Homo sapiens: one gene and its partners. The protein of the gene in region 6 purifies or fractionates together with the protein of the main gene of each other region. This does not show direct contact. Each region holds a gene or a part of one and is shown on either strand. Other genes may lie near its edges. The genes, in order: CZIB, CYRIB, AQR, GALC, CCDC12, DNAJC17 and GCFC2.

Evidence for each region.
Region 1: the proteins of DNAJC17 (region 6) and CZIB fractionate together in Homo sapiens (co-fractionation; one large-scale study listed by BioGRID). This does not show direct contact.
Region 2: the proteins of DNAJC17 (region 6) and CYRIB purify together in Homo sapiens (affinity purification with mass spectrometry; one large-scale study listed by BioGRID and IntAct). This does not show direct contact.
Region 3: the proteins of DNAJC17 (region 6) and AQR purify together in Homo sapiens (affinity purification with mass spectrometry; one large-scale study listed by BioGRID and IntAct). This does not show direct contact.
Region 4: the proteins of DNAJC17 (region 6) and GALC purify together in Homo sapiens (affinity purification with mass spectrometry; one large-scale study listed by BioGRID and IntAct). This does not show direct contact.
Region 5: the proteins of DNAJC17 (region 6) and CCDC12 purify together in Homo sapiens (affinity purification with mass spectrometry; one large-scale study listed by BioGRID and IntAct). This does not show direct contact.
Region 7: the proteins of DNAJC17 (region 6) and GCFC2 purify together in Homo sapiens (affinity purification with mass spectrometry; one large-scale study listed by BioGRID and IntAct). This does not show direct contact.

What each region holds. Positions count from the first base shown.
Region 1 is NC_000001.11:53,217,835-53,222,134, forward strand, and holds the start of CZIB (CXXC motif containing zinc binding protein), read right to left. Parts: upstream 2,801-4,300; 5' UTR 2,742-2,800; coding exon 2,736-2,741; exon of another isoform or gene 2,526-2,735; intron 2,511-2,525; coding exon 2,427-2,510; exon of another isoform or gene 1,967-2,426; intron 1,090-1,966; coding exon 1,033-1,089; intron 662-1,032; coding exon 580-661; intron 370-579; coding exon 338-369; intron 1-337.
Region 2 is NC_000008.11:129,856,061-129,859,560, forward strand, and holds part of CYRIB (CYFIP-related Rac1 interactor B), read right to left. Parts: intron 1-3,500. UniProt on the Homo sapiens protein: Negatively regulates RAC1 signaling and RAC1-driven cytoskeletal remodeling. Regulates chemotaxis, cell migration and epithelial polarization by controlling the polarity, plasticity, duration and extent of protrusions.
Region 3 is NC_000015.10:34,959,743-34,963,242, forward strand, and holds part of AQR (RNA helicase aquarius), read right to left. Parts: intron 1,073-3,500; coding exon 1,032-1,072; intron 1-1,031.
Region 4 is NC_000014.9:87,962,183-87,965,682, forward strand, and holds part of GALC (galactocerebrosidase isoform a precursor), read right to left. Parts: intron 3,448-3,500; coding exon 3,323-3,447; intron 3,317-3,322; exon of another isoform or gene 2,022-3,316; intron 1,962-2,021; exon of another isoform or gene 1,706-1,961; intron 1,330-1,705; coding exon 1,202-1,329; intron 1-1,201. UniProt on the Homo sapiens protein: Hydrolyzes the galactose ester bonds of glycolipids such as galactosylceramide and galactosylsphingosine.
Region 5 is NC_000003.12:46,942,246-46,945,745, forward strand, and holds part of CCDC12 (coiled-coil domain-containing protein 12), read right to left. Parts: intron 1-3,500.
Region 6 is NC_000015.10:40,769,474-40,772,973, forward strand, and holds part of DNAJC17 (dnaJ homolog subfamily C member 17), read right to left. Parts: intron 2,977-3,500; exon of another isoform or gene 1,551-2,976; coding exon of another isoform or gene 1,023-1,550; exon of another isoform or gene 507-1,022; intron 1-506. Other genes in the region: C15orf62 (uncharacterized protein C15orf62, mitochondrial precursor), read left to right, coding at 1,023-1,550. UniProt on the Homo sapiens protein: May negatively affect PAX8-induced thyroglobulin/TG transcription.
Region 7 is NC_000002.12:75,662,205-75,665,915, forward strand, and holds the end of GCFC2 (intron Large complex component GCFC2), read right to left. Parts: intron 2,580-3,711; coding exon 2,462-2,579; 3' UTR 501-2,461; downstream 1-500.

The DNA of each region.
Region 1 (4,300 bases), on a different chromosome or scaffold from region 6:
CAAACGACTACCCCACCCATGGTTTCAGAGAAAGCTTGCTAGTCCCCTAAAATGAAGACAAGGCAAGTGCTCTCAGTGATGCAAACTGAACAGCTAGGTTGTGTCAGAGGTCCCCTGAGCTCTCACAGCCCAGCCCTCATAAGAAGGCACTGCAAGAGGCAATATACCAAGCACTCAGTGTACAGTGGATAAATGACTGAGTCAAAGAAGAACTAAGTTCATGAGTGAATGTCCTATGGCAGGTCACTCTGATGCAGGCATGACTCTAGAACCCAGACCTACTAACTCCAGTTAGGATTTAAGCCCACCATCCCTGCCACTACAGCAGCAAACTTACATTGTAAGGCTTGATGGTGCTGCTTAAAATCTCTGAAATAGAAAAGAGAACACAAAGTTGACTTGAGTCCATACCCTCGCCCCAGCCAGGTGCCCACATGTGGCCCTGAAAAAGATCACGCTGTACAGGTGTCGGCATCTTAGGCCTGACTCCACCCTCAGGTAACATGAGTCTACTTTCAGCCTGGTGCCAGGAAGCTGTGGGCCACCCTGGCAGAACTCAGTACGCACAGCCTGACCTACCGATGGAATTTTCTCTTGCACACAGCTTGCACTTCTGGACCATGGAAGCACTGCCACGGCCCCCCTTCAGTGCCACACTGTCCTGGCAAAAAGCAAACAGAACTTTCAGTCACATATGAATTAGATGTACAGTCCTGAGGAGATCGAGCCCACCATTTATTGTCCACTTAAAGAGACCAAGACCCAGAAAGGGTAACTTACTAGGACAAGACTCCTGGGAAGGCTTCCTGAGGAAAATAAAAAAAGGGCTTCCCCTTGATTTTGAACTCTGCCTCATACCTCAAAGATGCCTATTGAATCCAGTGCTGATCACACTGACACCTACCCTCCCAAACCACAAAAAGCAGGGAGCAAAGAACTGGAGAGATGAAGGCCAGTTTCCCCAAATCCCTGCCCAGAAGTGTATGTGTGTTTGTGAGTGTTTATGTTGGGGGTTGGGCGGGGAACAGTTACCATCAGCCGGATGTACTGCCACTTGTCCGAAATCTCACCACAGTTGCCACATTTCATCTTTGGGGAAAAAGAATGTTAGTAAAGCAGCTGGCTCTGCTGCACAGACACCAAGGAAAGGGTAAGAACAGTGGGAGGTGGGCAGGCTCATGATCTACCTTCTTGATGGCAATCTCACTTCATCCCTAACACCTGCCCCAACAAGGACAAAACTAGAACTATCTCTGGGCAAAGGATAGGTAAGGCTGTTTCCTATGCCGGCGTGCCCACCCTCCTCTATGAAGTGCTCAGTGTGGCCGGGGATTCAAGGCACCTGTGGTGCAGAAATGGTTTCAGCGGAGGTGAGGGGGGGGAATATGGAGAGATTTGTTAGAAGATACAAAATTACAGCTATATGGGAGGAATAAGTTCTAGTGTTCTATAGCACTGTAGGATGACTATAGCTGACAATAATATATAGTTTCAAATAGCTAGGATATTAAATGCTCCCAACACAAAGAAATGATACACGTTTGAGGTGAATATGCTAACTACCTTGATCTGATCACAATACATTACATTTATCGGAACATCACTATATACCCCATAAATATGTACAATTCTGTGTCAATTAAGAAAAAAAAAGAGAAATGGCCTCAGCAGGCCCCCGACCCACTCTGCTTGGTTAGCTTTATGTTCCCACAGGCCCTGTATGTCACTGGTATAAGCACTTATCACTCTATTGTTACTCTATTTTTCTGTCTCCTTCACTCGATTCCGCTTCTTCAAGCCAAAGAACAGATTCTCCCAAGTAAGCCCTGGTATTCAGGCTTCAAAATCCTGGGAAACAAAAGTAGTCCGGAGGCAGCTTCCCGAAAAACAGGGCTTTTGAGAGGTACAGAAGGATGCTGGGATTTTTGACCAGGAGTAAAACAGAGCAGAAGCTCTGGGATCTGGAAGAGTGAAGAGCCTCGAACTGCTGGGGAAGGGGAGGCCTCTGTAGACCATGCCACTAGGGTACCAGCTTTACCAGTGTGGGAGGGCTAAGGAAGGGTGGATTACGCACAAAATTAAACTATTTCACAATAAAGAAAACCAAATCAATAAACGAAAGGCGAACTATTCACCTTATTAAATAATCACAAGCGTCCCTTCAAGTAGCATTTCGTTTAGTGTCCATTTACAGACCACGAAATATTTAACACAGGGAAGAACTACAAAATGAAGCTTTCCAAGACTGCCAATTAGAGATAAACCAATACACTTTAATAGAAAGCAAACGTAAAATTCTAACTAGGAAAACCCCGAACACTTAATGTGCCTGGTTAAATATTTTCTCATACTGCCGGAGAGAAGGCTCCGGTTCAGCACTGAGATCAGGACGGGCCTCCTCTCCCCGGGCCCCGCCCCGGCCGCACCTTCAGGTACCACCGGAAGTCCTCGCCCACGGGCCGGAGGTTGGTGATGTTCTCCAGCGTGGCTTTGAGTTGCAGCGCGATTTTCTGAGGGGGAGGGCCAGAGCGACTGCGTCAGCCGTGCCTGCGCAGCCCCACGCCTGCCCGACCCTCCCGCATTCCCAGCCGTGGGTGCCACAGGGAGACACTCCTTCTGCCTCCTGCTCCTTCAGCGCGCACCCACTCGCTTCATCTCCTCCTGGCGCGAGCTGTTGCCTCCCAGACCCTCGCCACCTCCCCTCCGTGTCCCCGCGGCGGGCGGCCTCCCCTCACCCCCATGGTAGCCCTCTCCGCCCGGTGCTGGCTGCGGCCCTTGCCGTTGCTTTCCGGCGCGTCGTAAAAGGCGGGTGCCGTCTGCGCACCCTCAGTAGGGCGGGGCCGGGGCCGGGCCGCGGGGCAGGGACTTCTGCGCGCCGCTGCTCGCCTGGCCCACTGGGCTTTTCGCATCTGGGGATCTGGGGCCAGTGGAGGTCAGCCAGGTCCGCGAGCAACCTGTGCTCAGGCCAGCGGAAGCCTGACTCCAGGATTCGGTGGTGCCACAGACAGTTACTGAACGCCAATTTTGTGCCTGCTTTAAGCGAACAGGACAGTTCCTGACCCTCAGTTCTTTCCAGGCTCTTCACTACTCTGCCTGCCCTGGAACTTCTCAGATCACGTCAGCTCCCTCTGCCCAGGGGAAAAGCTACAAAAGGAAGAGTTCCAAGACTGCCAAATAAAGATAAACCAATACGCTTTAAAAAGTAGAATGTATTGGTTTATCAGATTTGGGGATGATGCCTTTCTTCAAACTGCCCTTTCCTGTTTCACCCAAGAGACCTGGTTTCTAGGCCCTTCTCCAGAGTTTGCCCTGTGTCCACATCCTTCTCACTGTGGTCCTTGCGACTGGACATTCCCCTTCAGCTGGCTCTTTTTTGGGAGCCCACCTGGCTTATCCTTCTCTCATAACGTTTATTGAACTTTATTTTACCTGGCCTCCTGTCCAGGCTACATCTGAGACCATGCAGGAGCTGTGGAGATTAACGGTAAAAGGAACAGCACATTCAAGACTCTTCTAGGAGGTGGGGCAAGATAGCCAAATAGAACCCTCCAGTGATCCTCCTCCTCCTCTTCCCTGGCAGGAACACCAAACTGAACAACTATCCACACAAGAAAGCACCTTCATGAGAACCAAAACTCAGGTAGCAATCACAGTAGCTGGTTGTAACGTCACATCAAGATATAAGGCAATGGCTGGGTGCGGTGGCTCACACCTGTAATCCCAGTGCTTTGGGAGGCTGAGGCGGGCAGACCACCTGAGGTCAGGAGTTTGAGACCTAGCTGGCCAACATAGTGAAACCCTGTCTCTACTAAAAATACAAAAATCAGCCGAGTATGGCAGTGCACACCTGTAGTCCCAGCTACTCCGGAGGCTAAGGCAGGAGAATTGTTTGAACCCGGGAGGTGGAGGTTGTAGTGAGCTGAGATCATGCCATTGCACTCTAGCCTGGGTGACAGAGTGAGACTCTATCTCATAAAAGAAGAAAAAAAAAGGAACAAGGCAATGAAGAGGGTAGGAAAGACAGTCTTGAATTGCTACCACCACCCCTCCCTCATCCTCTGGCAGCACCTGGCTGCCTGGCATAGAGAGAGAATCTGTGTGCTTATGGGACTTTGCATTGGAACTGAGTTTTGCCCTGTCACAGTGGAAAGCAACTCAGGGCAGAATTCAGCTAGTGCCCACAGAGGAAGCACTTAGAGAAACCCTAGCCAGAGGGGAATCATCCATCCCAGTGGTCAGGTTCTGGCGAGCCCCACCACCACTGGCTAAAGTGCTTCAGGGTCCTAAATAAATTCGAAAG
Region 2 (3,500 bases), on a different chromosome or scaffold from region 6:
TTTAATCACTTCACACAGTGTGGAATTTGGTTTTATGAAATGGTAACTATTATCTACAGCTGAGTAACTTTCTTCAATGGCACTGTGTCCACACTGTCTGTATATGCCTATGAATCAATTACCAATTTCTCATACTTTGAATACATCCTTTATTTATAACCACAAACTGTTTGCTTTCAGCTACTAAAGAGAACAAAATATGTGGTTCAATAAGCTTCTTGTCTTAGAACTTGACATTTCAAGACTACAATATAAATATTCTAATTCATTATGTGAGCAAAATGGTCCCTTTGAAATAAGTGCTACTTTTGGGATGCCAGGCTAATAAATACCATGTTTGATAATGGAAATACTAAATACTAATACTAATATTAAATACTAAATACTAATATTTCATTTCAATATTTCAAAAAGCCATAGAAATCAAATGAATTCAGTTACAGATCACAGAACTGGAAAATGCTGCTAGATTCTGGTCAGAGAAAATAAGAGCTTACAGAGTTAAACTATGATCTGATGTTAATAAATGTCAGATTAACAAACAAATATTAATGATAAATTTAAAACTTTATGTCAGGTCATCAGCCCGTAACTTTAAAAAAACCCCAGTTTTCCTATTTATGAAGATTTACGTATGAGTCAACATCTACTGTACACTGAATATAGTCTCCCATTTGATTTTTACCATCAACTATGACATGGTCATTCCAGATGGATCAAATGAGTTTCAAAGAACTTAGAGCCCAAAGTTATAGCTAGTAAATGCTAGGTATTTCTGACTCCAAAGCCCTATTCTTTCTACCACAATAAACTGTCTCTGAAATAAAGCAACATTGTACGTAGCCTCTGTAACTTTATAAAACATTAACCTCCTGATTACTACCAATAGTACCAATTACTTCTGTAACCCTACAAAACATTAATCTACTGATTAAAAACAATAGTAGGTACTTCCTGTGTGTCTGTCAGATACCAGGTACTGAACTATTTCTTCACAGACATTATTTCTCATCCATGTAATAACTCTAAATGACAGCTATTATCCTTTTTTTTCCAGTAAGTCTGAAAATGTACTGACTGGCTACTCTGTGCCAAGCACTGGGAAAATGGATGTAGACAGACATGCTCCCTGTGCCCATATGGAGCCTTATTATATAGAGAGAAGACAGACAAATGATTACAGCTGTGATATGTGCTGAAAATAAGTACAGTGGAAAGGTATAAAAATAAGACCTCACCTAATGGAAGGCCCAGGAAAAGATCTCCCTGAATAAATGACTCCTGGACTGAGACTGAAGTATGTAGTAAGGATGAACATGAGTTTGCAGACAGAAAGGCAGGAAGCCAGACCCTGAACTGAGAAGAGCATGACATACTTGAGGAACTGCAACACCACCAATATAGGAGCACAGAGGGCAAGGAGGAGGGTAACCAGGACTAAGATGATTCATACACATGTAATTTGTGGACCACATTAAGTACTCGGGCTTTGGCATCCTAATGTCCCTAGAGAAATCATCTAAGCAGAGGAGTGGCGTCAGCAGATTCGCATTTTAAAATGCTACTTCATTTGCAGTGTGGAGCATGGACTATAGGGGTATGGATGGTGTATCAAGGTGTAACAGTGGATGTGAAGAAGATCAATTAAAAGTCAAACATTTTGGGTTATATTTTAAAAATGGTTTACTTCTCCCAAGATTCATTCTTTCTGTTGGTGTTAACTGGAAAACTAAGTAAGAGAGACACCGAACAGAAAAAAACATTTTTACAAAATATTATTATAGTCTGTTAAAGAAAAAAAGAAAAATGCATCTGCCTAGACTTTATCAAGTCTCAGGGTTAATTTCAGCATTCCAAGTTCTCTACCACTTTTGGGACTGGAGTCAGGTCGCTTGACTAAGTTGGGATGGTCAGTGACCAGTAGTTGCAGAACTTTTGTCTATGAATGGCTGAGGCCCTCCATGGTAGATCTATGTTGAAAGGGAAGCTCAAGATGATAAATCTGCTAATCTGCCTTTGAAGCAGCTAGATCAGCCTCACCCTGCAGGCCTGTGCTGGCACAAGTCAGTCCTACTAGCCTACAATGCTCTGTCTCAAGAGAGAAACTGGAGACAATCCCACAGAAAATGTCCCAGAGGTCTCTGGATGAGTTGGAGAGAAAGAGAGGACAAAGAAAAGATGCCTGGGATTGGACTCAGATGAAGCTCCTAAAACAAAACCATGAGATTATGATTTTTTAAAAAGCAGATGACCAGGAGAAAATTAATAGTCTATTAAGCCCTAAGTTCTGGAAGAACCAAAGGAAGCTGGCAGATGAGTGCAGGAGCCAAAACCACAGAAGGAGGTTGCAAGGAAAAGACAACTAGAAGGAATGATAAAGATGACAAATCAGTCCACAAGCTAGGACAGGGAAGAATAACTAGTTGATTAGGAAGAGGAGGCCCCTGGGGAGAGTTTCCCTATAGAGACAACAGTCGTTTATTCTCATCAACTGCCATCTATCTACTCTCAAACTCTCAGAAGAGAACCTGAGGACATGGATTCTAAAGGATTTAAGACAACCAAGAGTCATGACCACAATTAACGGTGGGCATTTGGGGCCTTTAAAATACATTTTGATAAATTCTGCCCAGTGAAACGAAGCTAACATGTTGAAGGGACTTATTATGACCCTTGGAGGCAGTCCCTAATGTAAGCCCCTAAAGCATGAGCAAGACTGAGGGGAGACAAAGCAGTTTGTCCTACTACCTGACCATACAACCTTCCCTTAGGTATCTGCCTCAACAGGAGGGGCTCCAAGGCCTCAGAACAAAACAAGCAAGTACAGAACAAGCAAGTATGGCAAGTTTACTGTAGGGTCCAGCCCCACAGGGTCGGTGGGTTTCTCCCCGTGTGCAGAGACGAGAGAGTGTAGAAATAAAGACACAAGACAAAGATAAAAGAAAAGACAGCTGGGCCCGGGGGACCACTACCACCAAGACGCAGAGACCGGTAGTGGCCCCGAATGCTAGGCTGCACTGATATTTATTGGATACAAGACGAAGGGGCAGGATAAGGAGTGTGAGCCATCTCCAATGATAGGGAAGGCCACATGGGTCACATGTCCACTGGACAGGGGGCCCTTCCCTGCCTGGCAGCCAAGGCAGAGAGAGAGAGGAGAAAGAGCGAAACAGCTTACATTATTATTTCTGCTTATCAGGGACTTTTAGTACTTTCACTAATTTGCTACTGCTAACTAAACGGCAGAGCCAGGTGTACAAGATGGAACATAAAGGCGGACTAGGAGCGCGACCACTGAAGCTCAGCATCACAGGGAGATGGTTAGGCCTCCGGATAACTGCAGGTGGGCCTGACTAATGTCAGGCCCTCCACAGGAGGTGGAGGAGCAGAGTCTTCTCTAAACTCCCCCGGGGAAAGGGAGACTCCCTTTCCCAGTCTGCTAAGTAGCGGGTGTTTTTCCTTGACACTGAGGCTACCGCTAGACCACAGTCCGCTTGGCA
Region 3 (3,500 bases), 5.8 Mb from region 6:
GGACAATTCCGCTCCCAACTTTCCACACAAGCCAAATCTATGACATCTTGAAGCTGACTACTACAATGCTCACCTAATTAATTCCCTGCCTCTTGCTCCCTCCAAATCCAAATTCTTGCTGGGTGCAGTGGCTAATGCCTGTAATCCCAGCACTTTGGAAGGCCAAGGCAGGTGGATCACTTGGGGCCAGCAGTTTGAGACTAGCCTGGCCAACATGGTGAAACCCTGTCTCAAAAAAAGAAAAAAAACAAACAAACCCAAATTCTCTTTTTCAAATACCACTGTGCTTACAACTCTTCTTACTTCCTACTGTTTTCCAAATAAAGAACAAAATCCTGAAGATGGCCTTTGACCCATTTAGTCAAATATCCTTTTAAAATACTCACTGGACATACATGTCTGCAGGTGTATATACAAAAAGATGCCTAAGACACGCTGTTAAATTTTTTAAAAGAAGCATGATGAAAAATAGCATGTAGAGTACAAACCCTTTTGTGTTTGAAAAAACATGTGAAGGCGTGGGGAATAGAACAGATGTATATGAACCATATACATGAACCAGGGATTGGGGGCAGAAAAGATGATTTATTGAAACTCACCCCTTACAGCATATTGCTCAAAAATAATTTTTATCACTTCTGTGTTTATTATTATACATTTTATACATTACATATGTATACTATATTATTGTAAATTTAATAATGTCTTACTTTCATAACTTTTTAAGAATATTTTTAAAAGGTGAATCAGAAATAATACTAGTAATAAAATCTTCATGTTTACTTTTTCTCAAATTCCATCTAAATCCAAATAAACCCTATGGGATTTGATACCTCTAATCTGAGCCAAAAGTTAGAAGGCAAAAAATAATTTATGACTCTTCAGCACCTAAAGTTTTTCTAGTCACCATTGCCCTGACGACCAGTTTGAAACAGAAAAAGGGTTCAAGTTATGATCACATTTAGAAGTTCAGCCAAGATCCAACTTGGTCCACCCCAATCACATTGTATAAAATTTAAATTCATTCCTACCTTGATTTGACAATCTCTTTTTCATATATATCTTCAATAACCTGTTATAAAAATATAAAAATGTTTAATATCTCAACAACTTTTTTCAACCCTAAATTGACAGTTTTTAATGAGTGAGATTATATAAAATAAGTTGGTTTAGGAAAGCCATCAAATATTACTGCTATTGAAATAATGAGATATTTAAAATAATCCCATTATATTCCTCGAAATATGAAATTAACAGAAAGCAAAGTAGAAAAAACAAATAATAAAACAGAGCCCTAGATTCATTAAAATGATGTGCTTATAAAGATTTTTAGGGAAAATAAAAATTCACAAGATCAGGATTTTTTTTAAACTTAAAGTGTATAAATGTTATGAGACTCCATTTGAGAGTCATAACTGTGTGCCTGCAAAACCCAGAGAGAAAATAATTTAAAAGTGTGAAGACATAACAGACACAAATTCTAATTGTTACATCTCTTTATCCAAATGAATATGATAGAGCTTCAGAATTTCCATTCATTTGAGTGAGGGTGGGCAGAATGGTGTACTACTTAAGAATTCAGACTCTGGCCAGGCACGGTGGCTCACGACTGTAATCCGAGCACTTTGGGAGGCCGAAGAGGGTGGATCATGAGGTCAAGAGATCAAGACCATCCTGGCCAACATGGTGAAACCCTGTCTCTACTAAAAATACAAATATTAGCTGGGCGTGGTGGCGCACACCTGCAGTCCCAACTACTTCGGAGGCTGAGGCAGGAGAATCACTTGAACCCGGGAGGCGGAGGTTGCAGTGAGTCAAGATCGCGCCACTGCACTCCATCCAGCCTGGTGATAGAGCGAGACTCCATCTCAAAAAAAAAAAAAAAAAAAAAAGAATTCTGACTCTGGAACTGTACATCTCAAAAAAAAAAAAAAAAGAAAAAAAGAACTCAGACTCTCGAATTGGAAGACTGGTTCAAAACATCTGCCTTCACTACTGATGGCTGGAACTCTTAGGCAAGTGCCTGACCTCTCCAAGCCTCAGTTTCCTTACCCACAAAACAGATCTAATAACACAAACTACCACACAGGGTTACTGAAAATAAAATAAGACAGGGCATATAAACAATTAGTACAAATACTGGCATACAGTGAGCCTTCACTAACAGTTATCAATAGCAGCAGTAGTAGTGCTAGCATTAATAATAGTAAAAAAAAATACTACTGTAAAATTATGAAGTGCTTTAACATGCTATAATATTATTGTATGGTAACTATAATGTCTTTTTTTTTTTTTTTTGAGATGGGGTCTCACTCTGTCACCTAGGGTGGAGTGTAGCAGTGCAATCACAGCTCATTGCAACGTCTGCCTTCCAGTCTCAACTATCCTCCAGCCGCAGCCTCCCAAATAGCTGGGACCACAGGCATACACCACCATACCCACCTAATTTTTTGTATTTTTGGTAGAGATGGGGTTTCACCATGTTGCCCAGGTTGGTCTTGAACTCCTGAAGTCAAGTGACCTACCGCCTCAGCCTCCCAAAGTGCTGGGATTACAGTCATGAGCCATGGTACCTAGCCTATAATATCTTTTAATTGCTCCAAGTACATTTGTGAAATAAGTATTTGTGAGTGGTAAAGGGAGGGAGGCGATAAGGAAAACAAGTCTTGTTCAATCTAGATGAAATGCTCTGTTATTGTTTTCATCAAATTTCAAATTAAATAATAAAATAAAGATTACTGGTTGGCCGGGTGTGGTGGCTCAAGCCTGTAATCCCACCACTTTGGGAGGCCAAGGTGGGCAGATCACCTGAAGTTAGGAGTTTGAGACCAGCCTGGCCAACATGGTAAAACCCCGTCTCTACTAAAAATACAAAAATTAGCAGGGCGTGGTGGCGTGCATCTGTAATCCCAGCTACTCAGGAGGCTGAGGCAGAAGAATCGCTTGAACCCAGGAGGTGGAGGCTGCAGTGAGCCAGAATCGTGCCATTACACTCCAAACTGGGTGACAAGAGCGAGACTCCACCTCCAAAAAAAAAAAATAAATAAAAGATTACTGGCAAAAACAAATATATATTCGTAAGAATTTAAGTTCAAATAAAGTAAGAAATTTTGGGTAAAAAGTTCAGTTTTACCAACAGTGCCTAAAGCATCACCATTAAATTTATAATGGCAAAGCTTAAGAGTCTTCATTACTTGTTGAATGGTATGCAGTGTCAACATCTATTTCATTTAAAGACCTCACTCTCTTTAAGGGACAGGGTCTCATTCTGTTGCCCAGGCTGGAGTGCAGTGGCCTGATTACAGCTCACTGCAGCCTCAAGCTCCTGGGCTCAGTCAGTCATCCTCCCGCTTCAGCTTCCAGAGCAATTGATACTACATGTGTGAGCCACTGCACAAGCCAATTTTTTTAATTTTTTTGTAAAGGCGAGATCTCACTACTGTCCAGTCTAGTCTCAAACTCCTGGCTTCAGGTGATCTTCCCTCTTTGATCTCCCAAAG
Region 4 (3,500 bases), on a different chromosome or scaffold from region 6:
AGTTTACCAACTATCGCCAGCTCTGACAGGGAGTGGGGAGTAGGGAGGTTATCTGGGTCTTTCTTTTGACTATCCTTGGGAGTGGTTCTAGGTCTTTGGAGGATCACTTCTCAACCTTTTGACTACGATGAAGTGTAGATTCTGGGAGGGCTGCATCTTTTTACACCCTCTTTTGAGGATCCTCTTCATCCACGATAAGACATAAAAGGCTTATTGGTTTGTGTTGTGAGTCACTTAATAGACACCTTTGGTTTGAAAAGGTCAATACTGCCAGGAATATTTACTGTTTGTCCTGGCTCAAACCTGATAGTAGGATATTTGAAAGAATTTGTTTTTTAAGAGTCTATGGTCAGGAGTTGGCCAAACTGTAGGCTGACATTCAGAACCTGATATGATACACACACACACACACACACACACACACACACACACACACACACACCATTTTTTTAAGGCTACTCTGTTCTCTGTTTTGGATCTTGCTTCTCCCATGGGAACTTAGTTGCTAGAAATCCTTCTTCACAAAGCCCTGCTGACTATATGCACTTCCTATTCTGTCTACCTCCTTCTTGTTGGAACTTCATTGACCTCTTTGGGAAGCTTGAGATCTCCCCACACTGGCACCTCTCAGACTTCTTCTTCTCTCCACTGGCTTCTGCTTCTGCTTCCATGTTTTTTCACCTTCATTCTTTCATTCAGTTCCCTTGAATCCTTGATATGTCTGCTTTCAAGCCCCTACCTCCTCCCATGCCTCTGTCCACCTGTCAGACCTATTCCCTTCCTACTCAAGCCCCTCAATCACTTGAATTTTAAGCTCGTTGCTCTCAACAGACTTAAGGTCTCCCCAAAACAACCTGAGGATGAAAAAGGAAAAAGCCACAGCCTCCATATACATATCAGGGCAAGGGAAGGTCGTGAAGGTCGTCTCCACAAATATTGGTACACAGGTAACCTTAATTTTATCCCAACTGCCAGGAACAAAGTGGAGAAAAGATGAGAGCCAACTATTTTGTACAAATCAGTGAGTTGTGTGCTATGTTTTACGACTCATGGCTAAAATTTTTTAAATGAAAGCCATAAGATCTTGGCATCTGTCTGTATGCTTATGTATTTACATGTAAAACAAAAGTATTCAGTTTTATATTTTATTTTTCCAATAGTAAAGAAGTGAGTTAATCCAATAGCAACAACAAAAGTTTACCATGGTTTCAATGATGATGGTGAGGTTCCCTAAGCCATCAGTCAGAGCTACGTAGCTTCCTCCTTTCTCTAAATGGCCAACTGTCTTCAGGTAATACCAGCCAGGTTGAGTAAACTGAGTGGTATGAGCTATAGAAAAACAGAAAGTTCCAAATAAGACAAAAATGGTAATAATAGTATTTCTTTTGGGAAAAAAAAAAAGCTGTATATCAATTTGAGTCTGATTCATCCAAACAAGCTATTTTCTATTTTGCAGGAATATATCCGTCAACCTCATGTTTAAATTTTTAAATAATTAATCTAGATAAATGGTACAATTGCAAGAAGATTCCTGGAATGATGGGTAAAAATAAATGAACCTGTCAGTTCAAGAATATGATCAGTCTTTTTTTTAAGAATAAAATAGTTATTCCCCCCCCAAACTTGGTTCATCACTATTTAATCCATCCTAAAATAGCTACCAAAAAAAGGTTTAAAAAGTTAATAATGAATTTCAGAAACTAACTTTATGGTTTCAAACATATTTATTTCCACCACATGTACATTTATTGGTCACCTCCTAAGCTCGTCCTGAAAATGCACTAAGCAATATACCATGTCCCAACCCTTGGAAAAATCACAAAATTAAGAGTACATTAGTTCATCTAGATAATGTGGGGCCAACAATTTCAACATTCAAGGCGCTGATATACAAGTCTAACCTTAATTTTCTCATATAATTCTCAATATTAGAATATACAAGTCCAATATACAAGTCTAACCTTAGTTTTCTCATATAATTCTCAATATTAGAATATACAAGTCCAATATACAAGTCTAACCTTAATTTTCTTATATTTTTTGGAGGACAATTTAAGGAGTTTAGAATAATATCATGATTACATGATTAATATGATTACAAATCTGTCTTAGGAGAGCACAACTAAAAGGGAAAACCACCAAATTTAAGTTTAAAATAAAAACAAATTCACTCCAAATTCATAATTTTCTTCTGAAAGCATTTTACCTTTAAAGAAATTAGCTTTTTAGAAAGATTGTTAGAATTTTAAAACAAAATGGTAATAAATGTTTATAATCTTTTACAAAAAAACTGCAGAAAAGTTTCAACATTATTCAGCAATAGATTTTGTTACTTTGTTTAAAATATAATCACTATTAGTATGGTTATTATCTCCTCATGAAAAAGTGACACTATGCCATCCATCCCTGCATAATCTCAATTTCCCTTGTGACTAATGAATGATACTGTAGTAAAACTTTTGTGTTTCAATAAAAACGGATGTATTATCTATAGCCCTGTTCATTGTCTCTGAGCTATGTAAATTATGTCTTGTCTGGTAGAAATTTAATTAATTTCTTCCCTGTTGTGGGAAACCCAATTTGCCTCCATTGACAATTCATCTCCAATTCCCTTACACTACGAAAATTTGTGCTATGTTGACTTTTCATTTCAACTGTTTCTAACATCTACCATCTATCTGCCAGGATCCTTCATATCATATGAGTAACATAAAATCTTCAGTACGTGCTCACTTTTAAAATCTTTTGAGCTTTACATTGTTACCTATTTTGAAATTTACCTTTTCACAACCCACATTTCACAGATTTAGGGGACAATATAAAGCCATATTTCACATAACTTTCATATTTACTTATTCATTTGATGATTCAATAATACAGTATTTTTAATCATCTCCCTTTGATTTTGCTAGCATACGATTGTAATTGAAACTCTATTAATATAAGAGAACAAAATGTCTTCAAAGCTAATCTTAAGACTTCTACTCTGTTTATAAATACATAATCTTATTAGCAATTATCATCATTTGTAATTATATCCTTAGATGATTATTTATTTGTGTCTCTATCACTACACAGCTCCTCCTTTTCCTCTCTCTCCCCCTCCTCTCCTACACTTTTCTAAAAGCCTGGTCTTAGAATAATCAGAGAGTAGTCTAGTTACCCAAAATATTCTTATAAAACACTGGCAAATCTTGCTTAAAACTTAAATCTATACTTAAAACACGCATAGACACACAGTTTATATAATCTTCTCTAAGTTTTTTTCTGCTTTGTCTCTTAGAGAAGAATTTAGGGAGTGAGAGATGGAACTGAACCATACCTGATACCCAGACAGGAGATTCTACCACGTAGTGCCCACTCCATGGCTCCTGGGCCGTCATCAACCCGCATCTCCCATAAGGCAACTGTTCATAGTAACTAGCCACTAAATTCCATGCGATTGTGCTAAAAGATTTGATAAAAAAGAAACACCAAGACAACTTGTGATAAAAATGTAA
Region 5 (3,500 bases), on a different chromosome or scaffold from region 6:
TGTGACCACACCTGGGGCCCAGGGCATGGACTGAGAGGCCCCAAGACAGAGCTGTCGTGGGTCTCCCTGCATGCCAGGGTTGGCACTCCAGAAGGTGACAATGCTCACTTCACTATGGCAGCGTCCTGCCTTTGACTCTCGCAGAGCAGTGTTCTAAGAGAGATCTGTGAGCTCCTTCCATTGGGAGCCTGCTCTGGTGGACACAGAATGCGCTGGAGCCTGCATATAAATTATAAGTAAAACAGCTACTTGAACTACCTTTCCTAGACATTTATTTATGCCATTGACAACTGCCTTCCTAAGAATGGTATCTGCTTTATGTGGAGACTGCAGGCATCAACCAGACCCTGCCATTCCTTGGCCACACAACCTCCGGGGAGCAGACTACCAAAACCAGGTCGGAGGCCTGGCCCAGAGAAAGGCTTCTGTCATGAGAACAGATCAACATGCCCCCCACCCCAACTCAGGGCAGCTCATCTCATGGCAACGAGGCAGCGAGAACAAAATAACTGACCAAGTGACAGCAGCTACACGAGAGAGGTCAACATGGAACGTGGTTCTTGGGCGATGGGTGAGAGGTTTCCTACTGAGAGATGGGCTGGGCAGAATTGGGTGATACAGCATAGGGGGAGAGAAGTGGGAAGGGCATTCCCGGTGGGAAGCAGAGCTTGAACAAAGGCAGGGTGTGGTCTGAAGAGCATGCAGGTGACTGGGGTTGGGGGAGGGGGTGACAATGATTGCCAGGTAAGACAGTCAAGGCAGGCAATGGCCGAACACAGAGGGCTCTGGCCGGTGTTCTTAAGCAATGGAGAAACCGAGGAGAGACTGGAGAGAGTTCACTGACCTCTGCTGGGGAAGGCAGGCCCTGGGGTGGACAGGCAGATGCTTGGTGATGGCCAAAGAGGGAAGGGAGAACAGAGTATAAATGCTTCACTGAGAAACAAGTCAGGATTCTCCAAATGGCTCCCAGGGCTGCTGGGACCTGGACGGGGCTTCCACAAGGGCCCTGCTGACACATGCAGCCCTCCCTGACTAAAGACTAGCCGATGAAGCAAGCCAGAGCCTGCAAATTCTAGCAAAAAATTCCTTCCCAACTCCCAACCAGCGGACACCCTGAAGGCTACTCCCTGCAGTGCCTACCTCAGGGGAAGGAGCGGCAGACACCTGCCCTGGGTAAGGGCAGAGAAGGAAAAGCAGAAAGGGCTCTTCTTTCCCCACACTGGGCTAGTGGGGCAAGACCCCCAGCCACAAAGACGACTCCTTTCCACAGGGGTTCTGTTAACCCGAACCACCTGGCAGAAGTAGGTGGGGACTACGGGAAAGTGTCCAGCCTTTGGGAGGAGTGCTTTGCAAATACCATGCCCTTTCTCGGCTCTCAAGCAAGGTCAAACAGCTGTCACCACCCTCCTGGAGCCCCAGAGACATTCAAGTGCCTCAGCAAAGGCCAAGTTATTCATTAATAAATGAGAAAACACCCAACTATCTAAATGACTTTTAAAAATGCCCAGCAATCTGGTGGGTGGGGGGCAGCACTAGCTCTGCAGACAGCATGAGGTTAAAAATGACCCCAGCCTGGGATGCTGTGCAAAGAGCAGGGGCTCAAAAAAGATAAAGATCCACATCTGTGGCAGGAGCAGGTGAACAAATGAACAGGCCACACAAGTGGGGGAGATAAGGTGTACCTCAGCCTTCCTGACAAAGAGTGATTCATAAATAGGACAATGGGCATTCACGGGAAGGAAAATCGCTTTTGGTGACACTGGCCTGAATCACAAGATAAGGCCCTTTGCTGCCCGGGATAGTGGAGGGAAGCGCAGACCACTTGAAGCTCACCCCTACCTGAGAGACTCAAAGAGCCTCAGACCTGGAGGGCTCGCAGGATCACCCATTCTAGGTCCTCAGTTTAAGCCATGGGAAAACCTGGGAAATGGCAGTCAGGGAAAAGGAAAAGATTTGTCCAAAGTCACAGAACCCATCAGCGGTAGCTGCAAGTCTGGATCCAGGTCGTCCTGATGCCTGGCCCTCAGTCTTGCCAAGGAGACGAGAGAGAGGCTATCAAGAGTGGAAGAGTGGCGCTGAGTTTCTAAAGAGCTCTGATTCTACCCGCCTCTCCTGCGCTCCCCACACAGTTCAGACCTGGTCCCATGTGCTCAGATGCGGCCACAGCCAGCCCAAGTCCAAGCCTAGGCCCTGCTGGACACTCAGTAGGAAAGCAGGCAAGGCCCTAGGTGCACAGCCTCCCCAGGAATTTAGAGACACTTCGCTCACCCTGAGACCTTTAAATCAGACTCAATGCCTCACCACCCCCACTCCCCACTCAATACCCTTCCCAAATCTTGCCATCTTCTCCCTCCTTCCCAATCCCTAGTCTCGTCTACCACCTCCTTAGCTCCCCACCACAACCAAGCCCCCAGCCATTCCCCTCCACCCCTGCCTGCCAGCCAGCCTTCCCCTCTACTCTGGAGAATACAGCTGCCTCCTGCATTTTTCCCTCTCTTTCTCCAACCTGTCTCCCCTAAGTCTCTCTTCAACTTATCAATCCACATTCCTGGCCTCCTCTTCAAAGATACTGGTCAGACCACACTGCACCTCCGCTCAAAGCTCTCACTGGGTCTCCACACCCCCAGGACAACAGCCATTCATCTCGACCTCACATCTGCTCTGTCCAGAACACTCTTACACCCCACATTTTGTCTCAAATCCTGAAATATCTACTCTGATAACCCCCAAGAAAACACACCATCTGGCCAGTCCTAAAGGCCAGGCCAAAGGCCACCTCCTCAAAGCAGCCTTCTAAGATTCCCAGGCAAAAGAATCCTCTGGGCCTACCCAGTGCATATCAGGGTCTGACCGTAGGCCCAGGGCACAGGCCTGTGGCCATTCCTATTCACATGTAGGCTTTACTACCCCTTCCCTTCAAGAACCTCTCAGCACGGGGCATCTCCTAGAGCACCTCAAGGCCTAGCCCAGAGCCTGGGCTAGACAACCTTCAGAAATGCTACCAATTTAACTGCTACCCTCTCCACCAACTCCAGAAGAGTAAACCTCAGGAACGCTGATGGCTGGAGGGCAGGAGAGTCATGGTCTGGGCTGGGGCCCTCCCCATAGCCTATCTGCCTATTAATGGAGGTACTCCCCCATTTCTCACCCCTGCCCACATCTCCACACCTAGACCTTGCACCCCTGCCCTCACCTCCTCCCAGAGCCTTCAGCAGGAAGAAGCCTTTGAGGCAGGATTTCAGGGGGTCTCAAATACAGCCCTGCTCAGGACAGAGTCTGACTGACCTGTTTCCTAATGTTTGAAATCCTTTTTATCAGGGACAAAACTGTTACAAATAAAATTAGAGCTGTGCAAAGTTGGTATTGTTTCTTCCTTAAATGTTCAACAAGACTTCAGTGAAGCAATCTTGGCCTGAAGTTTTATTTGGGAAAATATTTGTTATAGGACTGTATAGATTTTCTATTTCTTCTCCAGCCAGTGTTATTAATTTATGTCTTTC
Region 6 (3,500 bases):
CTTGGAGCCACCCTTGGCGGGCCCCCAGCCCAACCCTGGGCAGCAGAGCCCGCCCATCACAGGCATGGCGCTGCTCCCCATTAACACACCCTCTGCCCCCCTTCCTGTTCCTGCTCGTGAGGGCCTGACAGCGGGGCTGAGTCACCCATACCAGCTACAGGTCTCTTCCTTCCCCAACAATCGTTCCACACGCCTGCCTTTCAATTAACTCCCACCCGCCCCGAACTCTTCCTACCCAGACACTGTGGGCAGGGAGCCAGGCGCACCTGCTGGGGGCCCAGGGTGGTGGGGCTGTGATCAGAAAGGAAGCCGCGTGGTGACACATAAAGCAGGGCTGCCCCCACACGAGTCCCCAGAGGAATCTTAAGCTCCCCATTGCCCTGGGGTGTTGGTCCCAGCTGCCCCATCCCTGCACGCGGATGCTGCAATTACCCAAGAGCACGAAACCTGGCTTCCCACCTGACTGAGTCAGCTGAGAACAAAAACACATCTCCACCGCCACAAACAGCCAGGCCACTCATCAGAGTCCGGGAGCCACTGGCAGAGAGGGCACGGCCCCACACTGCCCCAGAGACATATAGGAGCCAGGCAAACACCAGGGCGAGTGAGCTCGGGCCATCTGCTGCCTGCCTGTGGAAGGAGCGCTCGCCAGCCTCACCCAGCCCGAGAAGGTCCACCTCTGCCTCCGCCGGAGCTGCCCTCATTCTGGCTCCAGTAAGTGCTGCTTCTTCCTCCTGGGTTTTTTTCCACTACCCTATTCAGTAACCAGGCCACTCCTGTCCCTGTGGGAAACTCTTGCTGCCAGGAACTCCCAGCTGTCTGCTCTCCTGGGCAAAAAAGTTCCTTCTTCCTGAGCCCTCCTCTCACCATCCAAGATGTGGTCAAAGGTCTGTGCTGAGTGGAAACCCTGAGGCCTCTGCTCCTAGGGGAGCCTCCCCAGCTGCTGGCACTCACTGCCCCAGCAGGGACCACATGCACCCTGGCTGCTCCTGAACACCTGTCTGCTGGCTCCCCTGGGCCCCATGGAGACCTGGCGGAAAGGCTCCTTCCGCAACGCCTCCTTCTTCAAGCAGCTGAGCCTGGGGCGGCCACGGCGGCTCCGGCGACAGAGTAGTGTGCTTAGCCAGGCCAGCACAGCAGGTGGGGACCACGAGGAGTACAGCAACCGAGAAGTCATCCGGGAGCTACAAGGGAGGCCAGATGGCCGGCGCCTGCCACTGTGGGGGGACGAGCAGCCCCGGGCCACCCTGCTGGCCCCACCCAAGCCCCCACGCCTCTACCGAGAGAGCTCAAGCTGCCCCAACATCCTGGAGCCCCCACCTGCCTACACAGCAGCCTACTCTGCCACCCTGCCATCGGCGCTCTCTCTGTCGAGTGCCCTCCACCAGCACTCAGAGAAGGGCCTTGTGGACACTCCCTGCTTCCAGAGGACACCTACCCCAGACCTCAGTGATCCCTTCCTCTCCTTCAAAGTGGACCTGGGGATTTCACTTCTTGAGGAAGTTCTGCAGATGCTAAGGGAGCAGTTTCCTAGCGAGCCCAGCTTCTAAATGGGGTGAGGGTGGGCAAAGCCGGGGTGACTGGAAGATCCAGAGGCTGGGGATTAAGGAAAGGACAGGGACAGGACTCCAGGCCCATCGCTGGAGGGTTCAGGCAGGCAGAGCTTCTTCATCCTGGGGGAGGATTCCAGGATAGGAATCCAGGGCTCTGCCTGCTCTCTGGGTCCTGGACAGTCCTTCCAGGCACCCCAGAGTGGAGGGACAGAGGCAATCTGGAAATGTTGGGGGGGCGGCCCTTCCTGGCAGGACCCTGAAGAAAGCTGGCTATGCCGGGAAAGGGAGGCTGTGCCGGGAAAGGGAGGCTCTGTGCGGCACTACAGGAACCAGGTAGAGGCTGGCAGAGCCAGAAGGTGGCACGGGGTCAGATCAGGGAGTGGGAGGACACAGACTGAGCAGAAGAGATGAGTGCCCCATGCCAGCCTCTTTGGAAGCCACTGTCAACAGAGAGAGGTCACAGGACAAGCTTGGGTAAAGGCAGTCCAACCCAGGCAGAAGAGGAAAGTGGGAAGGCCCAGGAAGAAAGGGGAGAAGGCCTGACCCTGTCTAATCTGGTGGCCACTCACTGCATGACACTGAATTGAAATAAATAAAATTAACAGTTCAGTTCCTCAGCTGCACCGTTATTCCAGATTCCACATTCCAAATGCCCGGTGGCCACACATGATTAATGGCTACCACACTGGTCAGTGCAGAATGGACGTAAACATCGCTGCACAAAGTTCTAATGGACAGCGCTGTCTAGACCATGGCCTGGAGCCACCAGCAAAGGGGAGGCGCATACAGGGGCTGGCCACATAGGAAGAGATAGGTAGAGATAGAGTATAACTCAGGAAAAAGACCAGGCAAATCCTTAGCAGAAATGAGGACGTGGCTCAGTCTGCCAACACAGCTACCCGGAGCAATCCCTGGTGAAGGAAGGCAGCTCTAGAGAATGCCAGCCACAGGCACGCGCACGGCTTGCAAAGGGGTACTTTGGGGAATTCCCAGAATTACTAGTGATGGGAGCCCTGGCAGGTTTCCTTCCTCGAAGAGAGGAGAACTGGATCCAGGGATGGGCATTCAACAGCGAAGCGGCACAGCTGGTTTCCAGAACCGTCTCCCGGGATTAGACAGTTCTGCCGCCTGAACCCTCCGACGATGGGCCTGCCAACCAGGCCAAGCCCACTGGGTCAAAGCCACAGGCTGTGCTACGGCCCCACCCCATGGCCTCACCAGAACACAGAAACCAGAGCCCAGCAGCACTGGCTGGGCCATGTGTTGGTGGCCCCCCGGGACTCGCTAAGAGTAGCAAAGGGGAGAGGGAAGCTCTGACACACACCATTTCTACGACCTAAATCAGTGGCCTCCCTCTTTCCTCCTCTTGTGTATAGGTACCGAGCTGTGGATACAGGAGAGAATGAATAAAATTCTAACACAATCTATGGAGTGTTATCTGGGGCTGTGAAATGCTGGGACTTGAAGGTGGGAATGAGGTCTCTAAAGCAGGGCCCTGAGTCAGGCCCAGGCCAGTTTGTTTCCCTCCATCCAGGATCTGGGACACACTTGCAGAAAGCTGCTTTCCAGTCACCCCAGTCAAGTGGAGGGGCAGGCAACGGAGCAGGCTGGCGTGGGTAAAGTAATGAGAGCAGCCTCCTGCCAGCCTGCTGAGGGGCTGTGGACACACCAGACAGGCCCTGGGCCACTGCAGAGAAGGGAAGAACCAGGTTGCTAGATCTTGCCCCCAAAGCAATCTGTTCCACCAAGGTGGGGACAGGTGTGGCCAGGAGCCCCACAGCCCTAGCCTTTGTATCCAGGCCAAAAGACACCAGGGCCATGGTTGCAGGTTGGGGGTTACACACAAGCTGGAAGGTCTACGCTTCACCCAGGCAGGGCACCCAGACTCTGGGCAGGCACCACCCCGTGTCAGCAGGGTAGCCAGAGTTCCTTCTTTTTTTTTTTTTT
Region 7 (3,711 bases), on a different chromosome or scaffold from region 6:
TACATTGCTGGATTTGATTTGCTAATTATTTTAAGGACTTTTATTTCTACATTCATGATAGATACTGCTGGTATTTTCTCATGATGTCTTTTGCAGGATTTGTATCATATATGGCATTTCTGAGGTATACCTAAGTATCATTTATTCAAGGACCTAAGAAATGGAAAAATCAATTGAGGTGATTTTTCCATCATGAAAAAAATTTCTTTAAAGTCATCTGTCTGATTCTGTAAAAATTTCACATTCTTTATGTGAACAAAAAGCTGAAAGAAATTCAGGGAAAGAATTAAGATGTGATATCAATTGCCAACCCAATGTTTTGTTCTTGCTAGTTGTGTTCCCCCTCCTTATTCCATCCATTTCATAGTAATAAGAAAAAAAAGAATTTTACATTGAGATTTAGGTAAATTTTTGAATTACAGTATATGATAAAAACCTTAACGTTCAAACTCCAGGTATAATGAAATTTAATTGAAAATTACTATAGCAGTTTAAGTCAATTTGTAGTTTTGAAAGCAGTTTTAATATTTTATCTTCCACAAAAAGGTAGGAAAGTTTCTGTGCTGAACTTAAATATATAAAGGAACACGTCCAACATATTTAGTTAAAAATCCAAAAGTCAGAGGATAATTTCCAAATGTGTACTTAAATAGAAAAAAATTACAAATTTCATGTGCAATAAAGTGTCTGCCACTTACGTAAAAAAAAAAAAAAAACCCAAAACTATGTACACATAGAAACACGTAACATTTTTGTAAATAGAGAAAAGGTCTAAAAGGATAACATTAAAATGAAAACAGCAGTTATCTCTGGGGACAGCGGTTGTGTGGAAATGCTAACTGCTTTTCAACAATAGTTTGCATTTTCTAGATGAGATTCTATCCTTGTATAATTTTGTTACTAATATAAACATCAAAAAATTCTTCATACCAGTGAATCACAAGTCCTCACTGCAACAGACATAACAAATCCAACTCCTAAAATAAATTATATGTAGTTTTGAAGGTAGAGGTGACATAAAAGTAGGCTGTATATTCAAATCCTACAATATATTCAATTTTTTCCAATTATCTTTTGAACAACAATTTGCAAAATATATTTACAGTTTCCCTTAAGTTATTTAATAAGTAGACTTAGAAAAATTACTAGTAAACTAACATTTTTGGAAAATTTTCTTAATTTCTTTTGATTAAATTATCTTGCCTCTGTTTTATTAGACAAATATTTTATCAGAAAATGAATCACATGTTGTGAGTATTTAAAATATCTGTTTCCTTCTTAGTCCTACCACCAATGACAAAAAAACAAAATAGTAACTTGCTAATAAGTAATGACTTAATGCTTCAAAAAACATCAACAAATTTAAAAGAAAGGCCAAACATGGTTGCTCAAGCCTGTAATCCCAGCACTTTGGGAGGTCAAGGTGGGTAGACTGCTTGAGCTCAAGAGTTCGAGACCAGCCTGGGCAATGTCACGAAACCCCATCTCTACAAAAAATTACAAAAATCAGCTGGGCATGGTGGCGCATGCCTATAGTCCCAGCTACTTGGGAGGTTGAAGTGGGAGGATTGCTTGAGCCCAGAAGGCAGAGGTTGCAGTGAGCCGAGATTGTGCCACTACTCTCCAGCCTGGGTGACAGAGCCAGACCCTGTCTCAAAAAATACAATTAAAAAAAAAATAAAAGAAAAATGGCAAATAAGGAAAACTTCTGCCACAAGCATGGGCAAAAAATCAATATCTTTAAAAATATAAAGGTCTTAAAGTCCATAAGAAAAAGATGGATATTTCAGAAATAATTACAAATGGCCAAAACCAATATGTTTACTCTCTAATAGCCAACACAAAATACGCTATTAAAATAAGATTTTTACCTTTCAAATTTTCAATGCATTTTTAAAAAGGATAATAACTACTGCTGGTAGGGATTCATTGGCACTCACTTATGCTTATGTTGGTACATTAAATTGGTACAGATTTCTGAAGGATAATTTGACAATCGGCACATGCCTTAATCATTTAATACTTAGCAAATAATTCACTCCAACTGAGATTTTCATATTGACTTATTTTTAAATAAAGGTAGTTAAAGAGAACTAAAAGATATTATTGTGGTTCAGGACAGAAGACTTAGTAGCATGCTCACTTAAGCTAAAACCTTTAGCAAGGTTTCTCCAGTTCCCCTCTTAAGAAAATTGAAAGACCAGCCAAAAGAATCAAAGGGAAACACGTTGAGCTCTTAAAGCTCCAGTGCATTTAATTCCTTAGAACACCACAGAATCATGGCAGCTTTTCATGATGCCAGAAGGTAAAGCACGGGGGAATACAGAGGTGGAGTCCTGCTTTTTTTCAAATCCTACCTTCTATTACAGGGAATAAAGAAGAGAGAGGCACCAGCTTCTTCTCAAACAAAGGAACTGAGTGTAACTATATTAAAATTTTAGCATTTTCCAATAAAGTTTATTCAATCTTCTTTAATTAGTGATTTAAGATGGTCTAGGTGATGCTCTCCTATGAAGGATTCTGCTTGATTCAAAGCTTTTATTTTCACCAAAATAAGAATTATTTCTTCGACTTCATCCCTGAAAAACAAAACAAATTTCTCCCTTTAAAAATGCAATGTATGAGGGAACAGCGGTCAATTCAGAACCTGATCATCAGTTGTTAATCTAAAACAAAAGCTTTACCTTAAGCCAATATCTAAAGTAGCATAAAACACAGAGAGATGCTGCCATCTCCACTTAATTATAAAGTTCAAATACAGATCATTAGTGGATGTATTCTGGCAAATTTCAATGTGAATTACTGTAAAAGGTAGAAAAGCATATAGTAAGTCTATCAGAAATTTCAGTAGTGCTGCGTTGCTATTAGCTTGTATGAGACATTGTGGTGGAAGCAATGGTGGGAGTATATTCACACATCATGACATTAGCAAATAATACAAATCTGATTTTTTTTTTTTTTAAAGGGACTTGGTCTTGGCTCTGCTGGTCAGACTGGAGTACAGTGGCACAATCATAGCTCACTGCAGCCTCAACCTCTCAGGCTCAAGCAATCTTCCCACCTCTGCATCCTCAGTAGCTGGGACTCAGGCGCATGCCACCATGCCTAGCTAATTTTTAAATTTTTTGTTCTAGAGACAGGGTCTTGCTATGTTTCCCAGGCTGTTCTCAAACTCCTGGGCTCAAGTGATCCTCCTGCCTCAGCCTCCCAAAGTGCTAACATTACAGGCGTGAGCCACCATGCCCGGCCAAATCTGGGCTTAAAAATTTTTTTTGGAGAGGGAGTTAACAGGAATACCACTGTATTTAAGCCCCCAAACAGCTGGTGCTGTGAACGAAACATTCAGAACAGAGAGCTAGCTACTGCTGGATAAATACCAAGCTGGAGACCTGTACTTAACAACTGTTGAGTCTCTAAAAATGGACAGGAAAATTAAAAACACATTTAAAAAGTGCTTAATAAAATGTTTTTGATTTATAGTTTTAATTCTATATTCCCCTGTGCTATAGTTTTTTGAATTTGCTTAATTTGGGGGAGATTTACATTTTAAAATATGGATATGCATAAGCCATCCCAAAGGTAACCATAAAAATATCTACTAACTCTACAAAGTTTTAACAAATTTTTAAAAGTACAGTAAAAATACAAATCTTTCTAAAAGTTGTTGAGAGCATACAGAATCCATGAACTCTCTTTATAGAAGTGAAAATA